Homo sapiens: one gene and its partner. The protein of the gene in region 2 interacts with the protein of the main gene of each other region in a pairwise test. Each region holds a gene or a part of one and is shown on either strand. Other genes may lie near its edges.

What was found. Proteins that work in one complex are often made in the same cells at the same time.
Region 1: the proteins of TFF3 (region 2) and AKR1C1 interact in a two-hybrid assay, tested with the Homo sapiens proteins (one study listed by BioGRID).

The regions. Positions count from the first base shown.
Region 1 is NC_000010.11:4,959,537-4,966,436, reverse strand, and holds the start of AKR1C1 (aldo-keto reductase family 1 member C1), read right to left. Parts: upstream 3,023-6,900; 5' UTR 2,993-3,022; coding exon 2,909-2,992; intron 524-2,908; coding exon 356-523; intron 1-355. UniProt on the Homo sapiens protein: Cytosolic aldo-keto reductase that catalyzes the NADH and NADPH-dependent reduction of ketosteroids to hydroxysteroids.
Region 2 is NC_000021.9:42,312,405-42,320,078, forward strand, and holds the start of TFF3 (trefoil factor 3 precursor), read right to left. Parts: upstream 3,006-7,674; 5' UTR 2,971-3,005; coding exon 2,889-2,970; intron 1,228-2,888; coding exon 1,081-1,227; intron 1-1,080. UniProt on the Homo sapiens protein: Involved in the maintenance and repair of the intestinal mucosa. Promotes the mobility of epithelial cells in healing processes (motogen).

The DNA.
Region 1 (6,900 bases), on a different chromosome or scaffold from region 2:
ACATAATAATGGAAACTGAGAATCATAACAAGTGTAAGAAACTCACCCAGGAGGTAAGAAATAATATAATATGATTAGGATTTTTTCTGATTCTATAGTCTATGTTAAACCATATTGATCTGTGCTGAGCTCAAAAAGTAAAGGCACTTTGAAGGCATGAATTGGAACACTGCAAAGATGAGAAAGCCATCTTCACTTCCTGCCTTTGATATTAGTTTTAATACATGAGTAAGTGTGAATAAATCGTAATAAATAAGCACAATTCACCCTATACTATGGATCCAGTCATAGAACTGCCACCTCCACACAATCACAATAAATACATGTGCACACAAGCTCATCATAGGCACAGTACCTTTGAAGTGTAGAATATGTCTTCTCTCTTCACACTGCCATCTGCAATCTTGCTTCGGATGGCCAGTCCAACCTGCTCCTCATTATTGTATAAATGAGCAGAATCAATATGGCGGAAGCCAGCTTCAATTGCCAATTTGGTGGCCTCTAAAGCTTTACTTTTAGGAACCTGGGGGAGTAACCATAGGTAGTATTTTCTGACTAATGTGCCTGAGAGTTAGTTCAGGCACAAGTAGCGACGTTCACAAAAATCAGCTTTTCCTCCTTTCTTGGATGAGTTCTGTATGTAGAATCATGAGCCCATCCCAGTCTCCCTGGGTCTTTCCCAGTTAGTAATAAAGGTTGGGCACAGCAGGAACTTCTGCAGTCCCAGAAAAATCACTGCTTGACCACTAGTTTGGAAGTGTCCCCAAAACAATTTCAGGTTCAGTCATTTTTTGGAAAAATTAACAGGATGCAACCTATAGTTATAGATATAATCTTAATTATTTTTAGTATGGTAAAATTAACACAAGGAATGGCCAGGCGTGGCGGCTCACACCTGTAATCCCAGCACTTTGGGAGGCCGAGCTGGGCGGATCATGAGATCAGGAGATCAAGGCCATCCTGGTTAACAACTCCATCTCTACTAAAAATAGAAAAAATTAGCCGGGCATGGTGGCAGGCGCCTGTAGTCCCAGCTACTGGGGAGGCTGGGGCAGGAGAATGACGTGAACCCAGGAGGCGGAGCTTGCAGTGAGCTGAGGTCGCACCACTGCACTCCAGCCTGGACGACAAAGCGAGACTCCATCTCAGAAAAACAAAACAAAAACCAAACAAACAAAAAAAGAAATTAACACGAGGAAATAGCCACATGGAAGGAAATATGAAGGAATACAGTGTAAGCTCCTGTGATTCCTCTCCCACCATATTGCACAGAATGCACTGACTTTACCCGGAATCATATTTTGTCAATGTATGTGAACTGTTGTCTACAAGAGATGCTCTCTACATACTCCATTACTAAGATTTTGTCTGGGACTGGTTACATTGACTCACTCTGCTTCGCAGGCACAAAACTTCCAAAAGTCTCCAAAAGGAAAGCAGGTGCACAGAAACTCCGCAGTTTGCACAAGCAGTTACTTACAGCCACCATTCTTATCAGTTAGGAAATAGTGAGAAATCCACCTTATCAGATACCAGCAGGTTTATATGGGAAACAGGCCTGTCTATGGATAGCAGTCTATTATGTCAAGTCTTTTCTACACAGCCATTAGCCATTCTGTCGGCATGACAGAACTAAATAGTAGGTGTAAAAATGTATACTCTAAGGATATTGATTTGTATAAGAAATAGACTGCAAGGAGTAAGTGATTAGCAAAATGGGGTTCAGTTCCATAAGTTCAAGGCAACTCTTTTAGGAAACATATGATTGCAGTGAAATTTACAATTATTGACTTACGTAACAAATTTGGATACAGATTTGAAAGTATATCTTTTAAATGACAAAAACAGAAACAAAGCAAACTGTTTTCCTATCTGGAAAGTATTTCAGAGGCTTTCTTTTTCCCATAGAATTACAAGGAACTAGATACTGGGTCTCACAGCCCTCTCCTCATACCATCCTTGATCATTTCTTTGCTGTATGAGTACTCAAAGGCTTACCAAAGCTGGAGCTTTAGTGGTATCCTCATCTTTACTTCCTCTCCATGTCAATTTATATTACAAAGTAAACCACTCCTGTCAATGGTCTTCAAAATGTCCCTTTGTAAATCCTTATATTGTATAGATCAGAAATGTGAAACCCAAATTTTATGTAACTAGTCCCTATTCACACACATTGTATTCCCAAGACAGTCTTGAGATACAAGTTTTCTTCCAGTGTAGAAATAGCTAAGTCTAGAAAAGAAAATCTATTCCATTAATTTTCCTGTCAGAGAAACAAGAAATTTTTCTGTTACAATATTTTGATACAAATTTGACCCATATTAACAAAGAAAAAGAATTTAAATTTTCCTTGTTAGGTTCTAGTATTTTTTTTTTCTTAAAATGAGGATATTTTATCGTTTCAGGTAATTTTCCCAGAGGTGAGAATAGTACATGAGAAATTCTCTTTAGGCCAGGTCTAGTATTACAGTGTGGTGCTCAAGGCCGCCCATCAGAACAGTGATACTCTCCCAACAGATTTCATCCACCCCGTCTCCACTAACTTTTGCCATAAAAATTCCTCTGAATTGTATCTTCTTGGAAGAAGTAAATATCTGTTCGACTATACAAAGAAACAGAGAAACCACTCCCATTGCAATCAATCTTCAAGAGAGGGAGCAGGCAAGCCGTGTTCTTTCTGCTGAGTTGTATAGACTCTGACAAGCTGTGAAATAAACATAAACAGAAGACAAAACAGTGCCACAAATAAGCAGTAGATGACCCTGTGACAAGATGGCATTGCAGAACAAAGACTGACGTTTAAAGGGGAGTCATGCAGAGTAACATAGGAACACAAGCCTGACAACCTGGTCAGCTTCCACTTACTCTAGCTCCTTTGAACTCTCAACACTAAAAATATTATTGTTACCTCTGCAGGCGCATAGGTGCCAAATCCCAGGACAGGCATGAAGTGACCATCATTCAGCTTCACACACTGATATTTCGAATCCATTTCTGTCACTAGCCTGGCTGGCAAATGTTTCTTTCTTCCTCCCTCACAGGCTATAAGAGCAATGAGCTGGCAACGCCCCTGAGCACACTGTCTGCTGGTTAACCAATGGCATGTGAGAGGAGGGACAGAGGCAGTCTTACACAAGCTGTGATAAAAATTGCATCCAGTTCAACCGTTTCTTACCTAAGAAAATTCATAAGTAAATTATTATGTGGTCATGATACACTCATTAATTTCCTCTGAAGTATTTTTGCTATTCCAGATCTCTATATATGAGACATAAATTACTCAAAGAGATTTGTAGAACAAATTGTGACTTTACATAAGAATACAGAAACCTCTAGCGGCACAGCTCTTTTTTGTTTGTGTCATGATGATGAGTTCCTTCTGCATCTTGCAGCATTTGAAATGACTAATTTTCATTTTTCTCTCTCTCACACACACAATTTAAAGGAATGACTAATGAGCATTTCTTTAAAATATTGCCCTCAATTAAAAATTAAAGTTAAAATTTTTTAATGCATTACTTTTTTCATCAGCAAATTTATTGTTCCTTTCTTATTAGCCTTGTAAGAGAAACATCCCTTCCTGATCAAGGTGCAGTCCTGATAAAGTTGTAATCCTGATGTGGGTGTAAATAAAAAAGAAAATATGATGTGGTTTTATTGGAAGATTTCTTATTAACAGCTTTTGGACTTTGGATATAATTTGTAACATGCAAACAGTGCCTTATTTGTCTTTTCCAGCCATTTTTATGAATTGCTACCAAAAAGTAACAAGCCAAAATATGATAACTATTAGATATACTTTATAATATTGCTAAACATTATTCATAAAGAAAAACTGGTAACTAATGACATATAAACTGGTGAATAATCCTCGCATGGGATAATTTTTACTTTATTCTCCCTTTGGAGGTCAGGTTAAAACATGATTGTAATTTGCATGATCCATGATTCACATCTTGGAGTAGTCACAACTTGCAGTGCCCTGATTGCTTCTATTTGCTTTTTCATAAAACAAACAGAAATTGAAAAATAGGTAAATTGTTATCATTGACATAAATGTAATATTATAAAGATATTGAAATTTTTCACAGAGTAATTTCAACAAGATGGTGGATTCTAAGATTCCCATATAACTCATGGAAACATCAGAAAATACCTAAAATTGACTGAAATAAACTTATTTATTTCTGGAGTGGCTCAGTAGAGATTCAGGGTGACTATACACATACAGATGTTATAGGCAAAAGGCCAGGGGAAGAGACATGCAATAGTCCATCTAAGCCATTGAGGAGAAACTGGGATGCGAAATTTCATAATAGTAAGCAATTCAAAAGCCATTGGTTATTTGGGGATACATAAAAGGGCAAACACAGTCCACGTAGGTGCATGTTCAGAAACAAACTAAGAAGGACTTGAGGTTTTATGTAGGGCTGATGCCTTGACTGAGAACCTGCCACACATATAAGTTAATGACTGTCATGACATAGAACAAATCTATATACAGTAAAAAAGATGTTTATTTTTTCAAATGCCCAATTAGATAAAATAACAAGGCATACAGGCCTGGAGCAGTGGTAATCCCAGCACTTTGGGAGGCCGAGGCGGCCAGATCACGAGGGCAGGAGATGGAGACCATCCTGGTCAACATGGTGAAATCCTGTCTCTACTAAAATAAGAACAACAACAACAAGAACAACAACAACAACAACAACAACAAATAGTCGGACGTGGTGGCGGACGCCTGTAGTCCCAGCTGCTCGGGAGGCTAAAGCAGGGGAATCGCTTGAACCCAGGAGGCAGAGGTTGCAGTGAGCCGAGATGGCACCACTGTACTCCAGCCTGGCGACAGAGCAGGACTCTGGCTCAAAAAAATAAAATAAAATGACAAGGCATACAAGGAAACAAGAAATCACAGTTCATTATGAGAAAGAAAATAAATTAGTAGAAATCTTTCCTGAAGAATCACAGGCATTAAAATTAGTAGAGAAGCATTTAAACAGCTGCTTAAATATGCTAAAATTGCTAATGAAAAATATGGACTAAGAACTACAGAAAATCTGAAAACAATAAGAAAATCACGATACAGTAGTAATATAGAAATTATAAAAAAGGAAAAAATTGGAGCAAAAAAAGTACCTGAATGAAGAACTCACCAGAGGGTGTTTCAATAGCAACTTTGAGCAGGATGAAGATATAATCAATACACATAGGGATAGCGCATTTGAAGTTCCTGAGTCTAAGGACACGAAACAAGAATAAAGAAATGTGAACCGGTCCTAAGGGACTTATGGGACAGCTTCAAGCCGACCAGTATGATAGTATTGGATTCCCAGAAGGAGAAGTGCAAACCCATGGTGGTAGACAGATTATTTGGAGAATAAAAACATCAAAACTTTTTCAAATTGGTTAAAGACAACAATCTACAAATTCAGGCCACTTAAAGAACTGCAAATAGTATAAACTCTAAGAGACCCAGATCTGTATGTGTTATCATCCAACTCTAAAAGCCAGACAAAGAGATAATCTTTAAATAGCAAGAGATTTTGGGAGCCGAGGCAGGCGGATCACCTGAGGTCAGGAGTTCGAGACCAGCCTGGCTAACATGGTGAAACCCTATTTCTACTAAAAATACAAAAAATTAGCCAGGCATGGGGGTGCACACCTGTAATTCCAGCTACTCAGGAGGCTAATCCCGGAAAATAGCTTGAACCCAGGAGGTGGAGGTTGCAGTGAGTCGAGATTGCACCATTGCACTCCAGCTTGGGCAACAAGAGCAAAACTCAATCCCCCCTCCCAAAAAAAAATATCTCACACCAGTTAGAATGGCGATCATTAAAAAGTCAAGAAACAACAGGTGCTGGAGAGGATGTGGAGAAATAGGAACACTTTTACACTGTTGGTGGGACTGTTAACTAGTTCAACCATTGTGGAAGTCAGTGTGGTGATTCCTCAGGGATCTTGAACTAGAAATACCATTTGACCCAGCCATCCCATTACTGGGTATATACCCAAAGGATTATAAATCATGCTGCTATAAAGACACATGCACACGTATGTTTATTGCAGCACTATTCACAATAGCAAAGACTTGGAACCAACCTAAAAGACCAACAACGATAGACTGGATTAAGAAAATGTGGCACATATACACCATGGAATACTATGCAGTCATAAAAAATGATGAGTTCACGTCCTTTGTAGGGACATGGATGAAACTGGAAACCATCATTTTCAGCAAACTATCGCAAGGACAAAAAAAACCAAACACCACATGTTCTCACTCATAGTGGGAATTGAACAATGAGAACACATGGACACAGGAAGGGGAACATCACACACCGGGGCCTGTTGTGGTGTGGGGGGAGGGGGGAGGGATAGCATTAGGAGATATACCTAATGCTAAATGACGAGTTAATGGGTGCAGCACACCAACATGGCACATGTATACATATGTAACAAACCTGCACATTGTGCACATGTACCCTAAAACTTAAAGTATAATAATAATAAAATTAAAAATAAATAAATAAATAAATAAAAAACAAAACAAAACAAAACAAAAAGTAGGAAGAGAAACAAGAATCATGGGGTACAAGGGATCCTGAACAAGGTGATCCACAGATTTCTTACGAGAGTCTTTGGAGGATATAGTAAGTGATACATTTAATGTGATCAATTAAAAAAAATTACAGCCAATAATTCCATATTTGGCAAAAAAAATTCTTTTTTTTTTTTGTGACAGAGTTTTGCTCTGTCACTAGACTGGAGTGCAGTGGTGCGATCTCAGCTCATTGCAACCTCTGCCTCCCAGGTTCAAGCAATTCTCCTGCCTCAGCCTCCTGAGTAGCTGGGACTACAGGCGTGCACAACCATGCCCAGCTAATTTTTGTATTTTTAGTA
Region 2 (7,674 bases):
CACCACATGGGGGAATAGCCAAGATTCCCACCTCGGGTTGCTAAGCAAGATAGTGGGACCCAGGGATCAGGCAGATAACAAGCGAGATGGGCCTTGGCAGGGCCATGGCTGGCACTCAGAGGAGAGTGTAGTTCCAGTGGAGCTGAAGGAACAGGACCGGCAGTGGACAGTAGCCAGACCCCTCTCTCTCCTGGCCTTCTCTGGACCCCCACCCCCACCCCTACCCTGGACTTGCTGGGGAGGGTGAAGGGAGGCCCTGGGCAGGGGCCCATCATTGATCAGGGAGCCGGGGCCAGCAGGACTCAGCCTCCCGCATTTCACCCTAGGACAAAGGGCAAGAGAGGCCCCTCTGGATGCTGGTTCCAGGAAGGTACCTCACGCAGGTGCGGCCTTCGTGGGGGCTGAGCTGGCACTTGGACATGGCAGATGGCTTATAGCCAATCGCCCCACCCACGATGTGGGGCAGCTAAGCCTGGTGGAGCCAGGGTGGCAAACCCGTGTGCAGGGCCATCTGTTACCCGCACAGCACGCAGGCTCTCCGCCCCTGGGGAGGGAACCCCCAGGGTGGTTGCCCTGCACCTGCCCTCCACCACGGCAGAGAGAGGGAGAGGAGATGACCCTTGTGGGGGGCAGAGTGGGGGAGGTGGGGTGTGGCACCGAGGCCTGACGTCTAGGGCTGGGACCGCCTGCCGTCTGTGTAGGGGATGCCACAAATGACAAGACTCTGGGGGGCCGATTTGCAAAAACAGCCCAAAAGTCGGCCCGGCTTTCCACACCTATGCGTTTCCACTTCTCTCAAGAATAGTTACTAAATCAGTTCCCTCTATGCGATGCCATCATTTTGAACACCTTTTTGAAACAATTGCTTTTATGTTTTACATAAAGGGGACAGAAGAGGACAGCCCCTGGCCATGGCTGCCCTAAGTGTGAAGCCTCTGCTCTGAGGCCTTGGAACAGGTGTGTGTGTGTGGCTTCCTGGGGTCCTTGTGCCTCCATCTCCAGCCCAGAAAGGACAGGGAGGCCCTGAGACCCCCTGCCTTATGGGGCTGGGCCCAGACCACGATGCCACTGGGGCCTTACCTGCTTCCTGCAGGGGCTTGAAACACCAAGGCACTCCAGGGATCCTGGAGTCAAAGCAGCAGCCCCGGTTGTTGCACTCCTTGGGGGTGACATGGGGGTAGCCGCAGTCCACCCTGTCCTTGGCTGGCACGGCACACTGGTTTGCAGCTGTCCCAGACAAAGCCCTGTCAGCTGCCAGAGCCCTTGCTGGGCTGCGGTGAGTGTGTTTGCTTCACTTTGCAAGTTTGCATCCTCCCGCTCCGCCCCACCCCGCCGAGTTCAACCACTGCTGAAACCCTCGCCCTTAGGAAGATGCACTTTCCCTGTGAATATTTAAAGAGAGGCAGTCTGTTAAATGCTCAGCTCGGGGACTCTGGCCATTTGCCTAAGTGTCTTTCTCCTTGGCACGCTCTTATCACCTTCTCGGGAAGTCACATACGGACCTGGGTACCTTCCAGCTGGCAGGAACCCCTGGGGAATCTGGGGTCCCTTGAACCCAGAAACAAAGTTACCCTTCATTGTTTGACCAACAAAACCTTGCCCCTTTGTTTTAAATGAAAACCGTGACAGGAGAGGCACACGCCATAGAGATCATTGCAACGCATGCTGCCTGCTTTTCACTTTTTTCTGCATCTCCCCTTCCTGAATTGTTGAGCATGTCCCACCCTCCCGGGACATCCTTCAGTCCCCAATATTTTCATGTTTCAGGCAAGCCTCTATGTCTGTATGTGCAGCAGAAGTTCACTGCGTTTCATTAACGAACTGAGTATTTCCTTAGGAAAATGGCAATCACGTGCAGTGTCTTACATTCCCTTCTCTTGCTCCCAGTCCGTAATTGCTTATCCTCCTGGCATCCAAACTTCGCTCACACTGGAATCAGCTGCAGAGCTTTAAAAATGACTGACGTTGGCTGGGCATGGTGGCTTACACCTGTAATTCCAGCACTTTGGGAGGCCAAGGCAGGAGGATCACTTGAGGCCAGGAGTTTGAGACCAGCTTGGCCAACATAGCGAAACTCCATCTCTACTAAAAATCCAAAAAATTAGCTGGGCATGGTGGTGCATGCCTGTAATCCCAGCTACTTGAAGCCGAGGCACAAGAATTGCTTGAACCCAGGAGGCGGAGGTTGCAGTGAGCTGAGATTGTGCCACTGCACTCCAGCAGTGAGTGACAAAGCAAGGCTATCTCAAAACAAAACAGCTGAGGCCTGGATCTTGCCTGGAGATGCCCTGATGTAACTGGTGTGCCCCAAGCATTAGGATTTTTAAAGCTCTCCAGGTGATTCTAATGGGCTGCAAGTTCGGGAACCACTGCCTTTGACCCTGCTCAGAAGACACCCAGATAAAAGCCATGCCCTCATTCCTTCAAACTTGGGTTAATGGAGCAGCCACACCCCATGGCAGGGTTGCTATGCAATGGCTAAATGAACCTTGTGCCTGCCGGTATTGACAGTGTTCTGAAGTCAGGGTTTTTCTCCTGCATCTTTCCTTTTTCTTTGTAAATGTGGAACAATGCATAAAGACCTATATTGTAATTTAGAAATCTCCAGCAAAGATGGCTATGGGGTCATAGGGGATGGGCTCAGGCTCAAACCCTGATTTCAACACAGACTGGGCAGGGCTGCCTTGGATAAGTTGTTAACTTTCTCTGAGCCTCGGTTTCCTTGTCTGTGAAATGGGGACAATAAAGACCCACTTCAAAGGGCTAGCGCAGGAAAAAGTGTATATGTGACAGGTGGCCATTATTAAATGAATGCAGAATCCCCCCTTATCCTGGATCCCTTCCCTTCACGCCCACCCTGCCACCGGGGCAGTCAGGGCAGTACTCACACAGGCCCACGTACTCCTCAGCAGAGCTGGAGGACAGCAAGGCCAGGACCAGCCCCAGCATGCAGAGCGCTCTGGCAGCCATGACCACCGTGGGCTCCGGGACGCAGCTCAGGACTCGCTTCATGGTCCAGGAGGCCTCATTTATGCACCGTTGTTTGCACAGCTGCTCTGGATTGTTTGCTTGGGGAAGGCTCTCCCTCCTGGCTGTGGCTGCTCCTGTTCTCTCCTGCATGCCTTTGTCAAGCTCCCAGACAGTTTTTCTCTCCCAAAGGGGAGAGGTCAGTTCAGCCCCCACTGTTTTGGCAGCAAGCGGTAAGGGCGGATTCCAGTTCTGGTTCCGGGTCCTCTACTGGGGAGCGGATGTGTGTCAATTGCCCTCCTAGCCTGGCCTGGTGTAGTGTGCAGGAGCCATGTGGGGTGGCAGGACCAGGGTGTGGTGTCCGTTCCATCTCAGCCTCCCAGCCAGAAGCCCTCAGAACACCCCTGGTCCCATGACAAGAGAGCCCCAGGCTGCTTCATCCCAGATCGGCCTCGGAGACAGGCAGCTCTGAGTGAGTCAGGACCCTGCGGCTCTCTCACAACTCCTGAAACACAGAGATTCCTTGTCTTTCCTTTTTGCTTTCTCCCCTAAAAATTAGTAACTACATTTTAATAAGTGGATGAAATGAATTGATTGAAAATATGTTAGTAAAAACATGGTACACATAATTGATTTTTAAAATCAAATAATACAAAAGAGCCTTTCCTATCCAGAGGCATCTATTGATCTATTGTGAACACTTTTTTAGGTATCCTTTCAGAATTTTTCTCTCTGGATCTAAGCACGTTTTTTTGGTTTGTTTTTGTTTGTTTGTTTGTTTTGTTTTTTTTTTGTTTTTTTTTTGTTTTTTTTTTTTGGAGACAGGGTCTTGCTCTGTTACCCAGGCTGGAGTGCAGTGGCACAATCTCAACTCACTGAGACCCCCGCCCTCGCGGGGCTCAAGTGATCCTCCCACCTCAGCCTCCTAAGTAGCTGGGCCACAGGCATGTGTCCAGCTAATATTTTGTATTTTTTTAGAGACCAGGTGTCGCCATGTTGGCCAGGCTGGTCTCAGACTCCTGGACTCAAGTGATCTGCCTTCCTTGGCCTCCCAAAGTGTCAGGATTACAGGCATGAGCCACTGCACTCGGCCACATTTTTAACACAAACAGGAACTGACTCTCCACCTTTGCCCAGCGTGCTCTTTTAAAAACTAAAGACTACATCTCAGGAATTGTTTTATAACAACATATCAGATGAGACAGCGATGATTCTATCCATTTTCCAGAGGAAGAAACTAAGACTCAACATTTCCGGTGCCTATCAGAGGTTACTCCAGTGTCCCTGGTATAGCTGGTATTTAACCCACTCCCAGGACCCTAAGCCTCCGCCCTCGGCATCCGCAGCATCCCCCAACCCCCCAACCTCCTGCAGTGGACTGGCTGGTAGTGGGCAAGAGACTAATCTCATTCCAGGAAAACGGGCCCCTAGATTTTGTGTTCTCCGTGTTTCTTTTCCAGGGAGGCATTTTGATGACCCCCACTGGCCCTTCCAGGAGCCTCTGTCTGAAGGGTGGACTTGGTTTATCACCCCGAGAAATGGGAGCGCCTGGCTGCTTGGATTTAGCCTGCAGCTGGGGTCCCCGGTGGTGTGTGCAGGGCGGCCTTGAGCCTCCAAGGGTGCATCCACAAACTGCCCTTCCCCGAGTGACCCATGGGAGCTCGATGGCGTACGTGCTGAGCACCAGGATGTGTCCTGCCCTGTGACTCCCAGGCCCCGCCCTTGCGCTCAGCACGCCCTTTGTGGATGGATTTGAGGGCCCCTGGCCTCTGATGTGCCACTCCCGCTGAGGCCAGCGAAGGAGGAAGAAGGAAAGAGCGTTGCCTGCCTTGTTTTCGGGGCACTCACTTTTTCTGGGAGACAGCGGACCCAGGTTCATCAATGGACAGCAGGATTTTCATGTTATTAAAAAGGTCATTGTAGGGGAAATCCCTGGGGGATCTGGTGAGATCTCCCTGGGGGATCTGGTGAGATCTCCCTGCCTTCCCACTGCTCCTAGTACCCAGAGGCCAGGCCAGGTCGTGGTGCAGGGCTGAGTTCCAGGAGGGTGCAAACACCCCAGGAACAGACTGCTGCCCCTCCGGCCCTCATGACCTGCTGGGGAAGGACCCCCGCAAGGAGCTTCTGCAGGTGCTGTGGTCTCCACCTGCTGCACTCAAAATTGCCTGGAGTGGGGAGAATATCAATGCCTGGGCCCCGCCCTGACAGGTGGTTCTGTCGCCTGTGATTCTTCTCTGCGGCCAGCACCGAGAACCCTGCTGGGGTTTGCTTCCGTTTAACTAGTGAATGTTGACTGAGCTCCTACTGCCTACACCCAGGGTTTAGGGCTGGGGAAGGAATAACAAAGGTGACACATTCTTGTCCTTGAAGAGTCCCCCCGCAAAGGGAGACGGGATCATGTCAGAGTTAAGATGGTGAAGCCAAGACTAGGTTCTGTGCTGCCTGACCTTGGGCAAGTCACGTCCCATCTGTACCTCAGTTTCCCTACATGTCACAGGGTGCTCACCCCACAGGACAGCATGAAGTGGTGCTGCACAGCCCAGCCAGGTGCCTGGGACACACACTGACCACCTGCCGGGTGTGCTGGATCAACCATGATGGCAGAGGAGAGGATTCCTGGTCCCGGCTCTGGTAGGAGCAAAGGCTGTGGCAAGGGGGCCAGAGCTGGGTCCTGTCAGGTGGAGACGCACAGGCTTCTCAGAGAAGGGGGATTTGGGCTGCACCTCTGGAGAGGTCAATGGGGAGGCCCGTGTGTGTCCCCTCTCTCTGTTCTAGGAGCCCCCTCCCCAGGAGCCCTGGGCTCTGTACAGGAACAGAGGATGGCATGGGAGAGCCCAACCTGCCTTCCAGAGCCTGCATTCCCACAGCCTTCCCCAGCCACCCTATTCCCCTGGGGGAGTTCCAGTTCCAGAGAAAAAGCAGAGCTGTTGTCAGAGCTGTAGGCCGTGCGGTAGTGGGCATCGGGCCCAACCCAGACAGGTGGCTCCCCTGGGCAACCCAAGACCTGGGGGTGAGCAGGACTGGCTCTAAAGGAGCCTCTCCCTTTCCTCCTTGGGAGCCGCATCCCGCATCCCTGCAGCAGCCTCGTCAGCTGTGTGCGGTGTGGCGGTGTGGGCCGTCCCAGGAGCCCTGCAAATCCCTCCCACCCTGGGCCTTGTGCAGGGGCTCCTGGATGGATCCAAGAAGAAGACAGTCTGCTCCCCCATGCCGGGGCTGCAACCTTTCACCTCCCGGATGCGTGGTCATTGTCACGTGCATATAACAAGCACAAGCTGAGCATGGGTCCCAGGTCAGGCACTCGGCCTGCAGATGTGGGAGCCCCAGAACATCAGGCAGAGCCCGTGCCCTCAGAGCTCACAGGCTGGTGAGGAGGAACAAGCCTTCAAGCATGAATTGTGGTGCAGTATGATTAGAGCTGGCAGAGTGGGGTGAAATCTGACTAGGTCTTGAGGGATGAGTACAAGTTCACCAGATGGGAGGGGTGAAGGTCAGAGGGGCACATTTCATTTTATTTTATCTTATCTTATTTTATTTTATGTTATGTTAAGTTATTTTATTTTATTTTATTTTATTTTGAGACAGGGTTTCTCTCCCATCACCCAGGCTGGAGTACAGTGGTTCAACCTCAGCTCACTACAGCCTACACCTCCCAGGCTTAAACGATCCTCCTCCCTCAGCCTCCCGAGTAGCTGGGATTACAGGTGCATGCCACCACACTTGGCTAATTTTTGTATTTTTAGTAGAGACAGGGTTTCACCATGTTGGCCAAGCTGGTCTCGAACTCCTGACTTCAGGCAACCCATCTCTCTTGGCCTCCCAAAGTGCTAGGATTACAGGTGCACGCCACCATGCCCGGCTAATTTTTGTATTTTTAGTAGAGCTGAGGTTTCACCATGTTGGCCAGGCTGGTCTCAAACTCCTAACCTCAAGTGATTTGCCTGCCTCAGCCTCCCAAAGTGCAGAGGGGCAGGTAAGGCCATAACACTGCCTACTTTGCACTAACTCACTGCCCCACAGAAAACTCAGAGTTGATGTGGCACATGCAGGTTATAGGGTCTGCATCACCGCTCAGTTTTCTGGTATTGTCACTCGATTACTCAAGCAGCAGACAGTCCGAGGGAGGAAGGAAGTAGGAAGTTGTGCTAATCAGCACCCGTGGGTGGCCCAGGGCCGCACACCTCCCAGGAGCACCCTGCTGCCCAGCTGTCTCTCGGTCTGCAGCTGCCATGGGTGCCGCCCCTCACTCTGCACAGAACTTCCTCCTGCCTCCCTGAGAGAGGCTCGAAGACCCTTCCTGAGTCATCACGACCTGAATGTAGGTGCTTTGGGGAGGCAAACGCAGTGACCCATTCAAGGATGCTTCTGTCTTGACACATAGTCCACTGAGGACAAATGGGGGTGGGGACCAGGAGCAGAGCAAATGCCACCACCACGTGTAAAACAGGAAGGTCAGAACGCAGAGCAGCCCAGTGGGCTCGGAAGGGGGCATGGGCTCCAGGGTTCCCTTGTGCAGCTCAAGGAGCACTTGGTGCTGTTTCAGCCACTCGTCTTGAGAAGCAGCCACAGAGCCCTCTAAACCCAGAGCGTCTGTGGGTTTGGGACCGTTGCATCAGCCCCACGTGCAAGGGACAGGAAAGGTTCCCAGAAAGGCATGGACTGACGGCCAGAAATAATGCAGCTGACCGCGGTGGACAGGAGCACCTCACC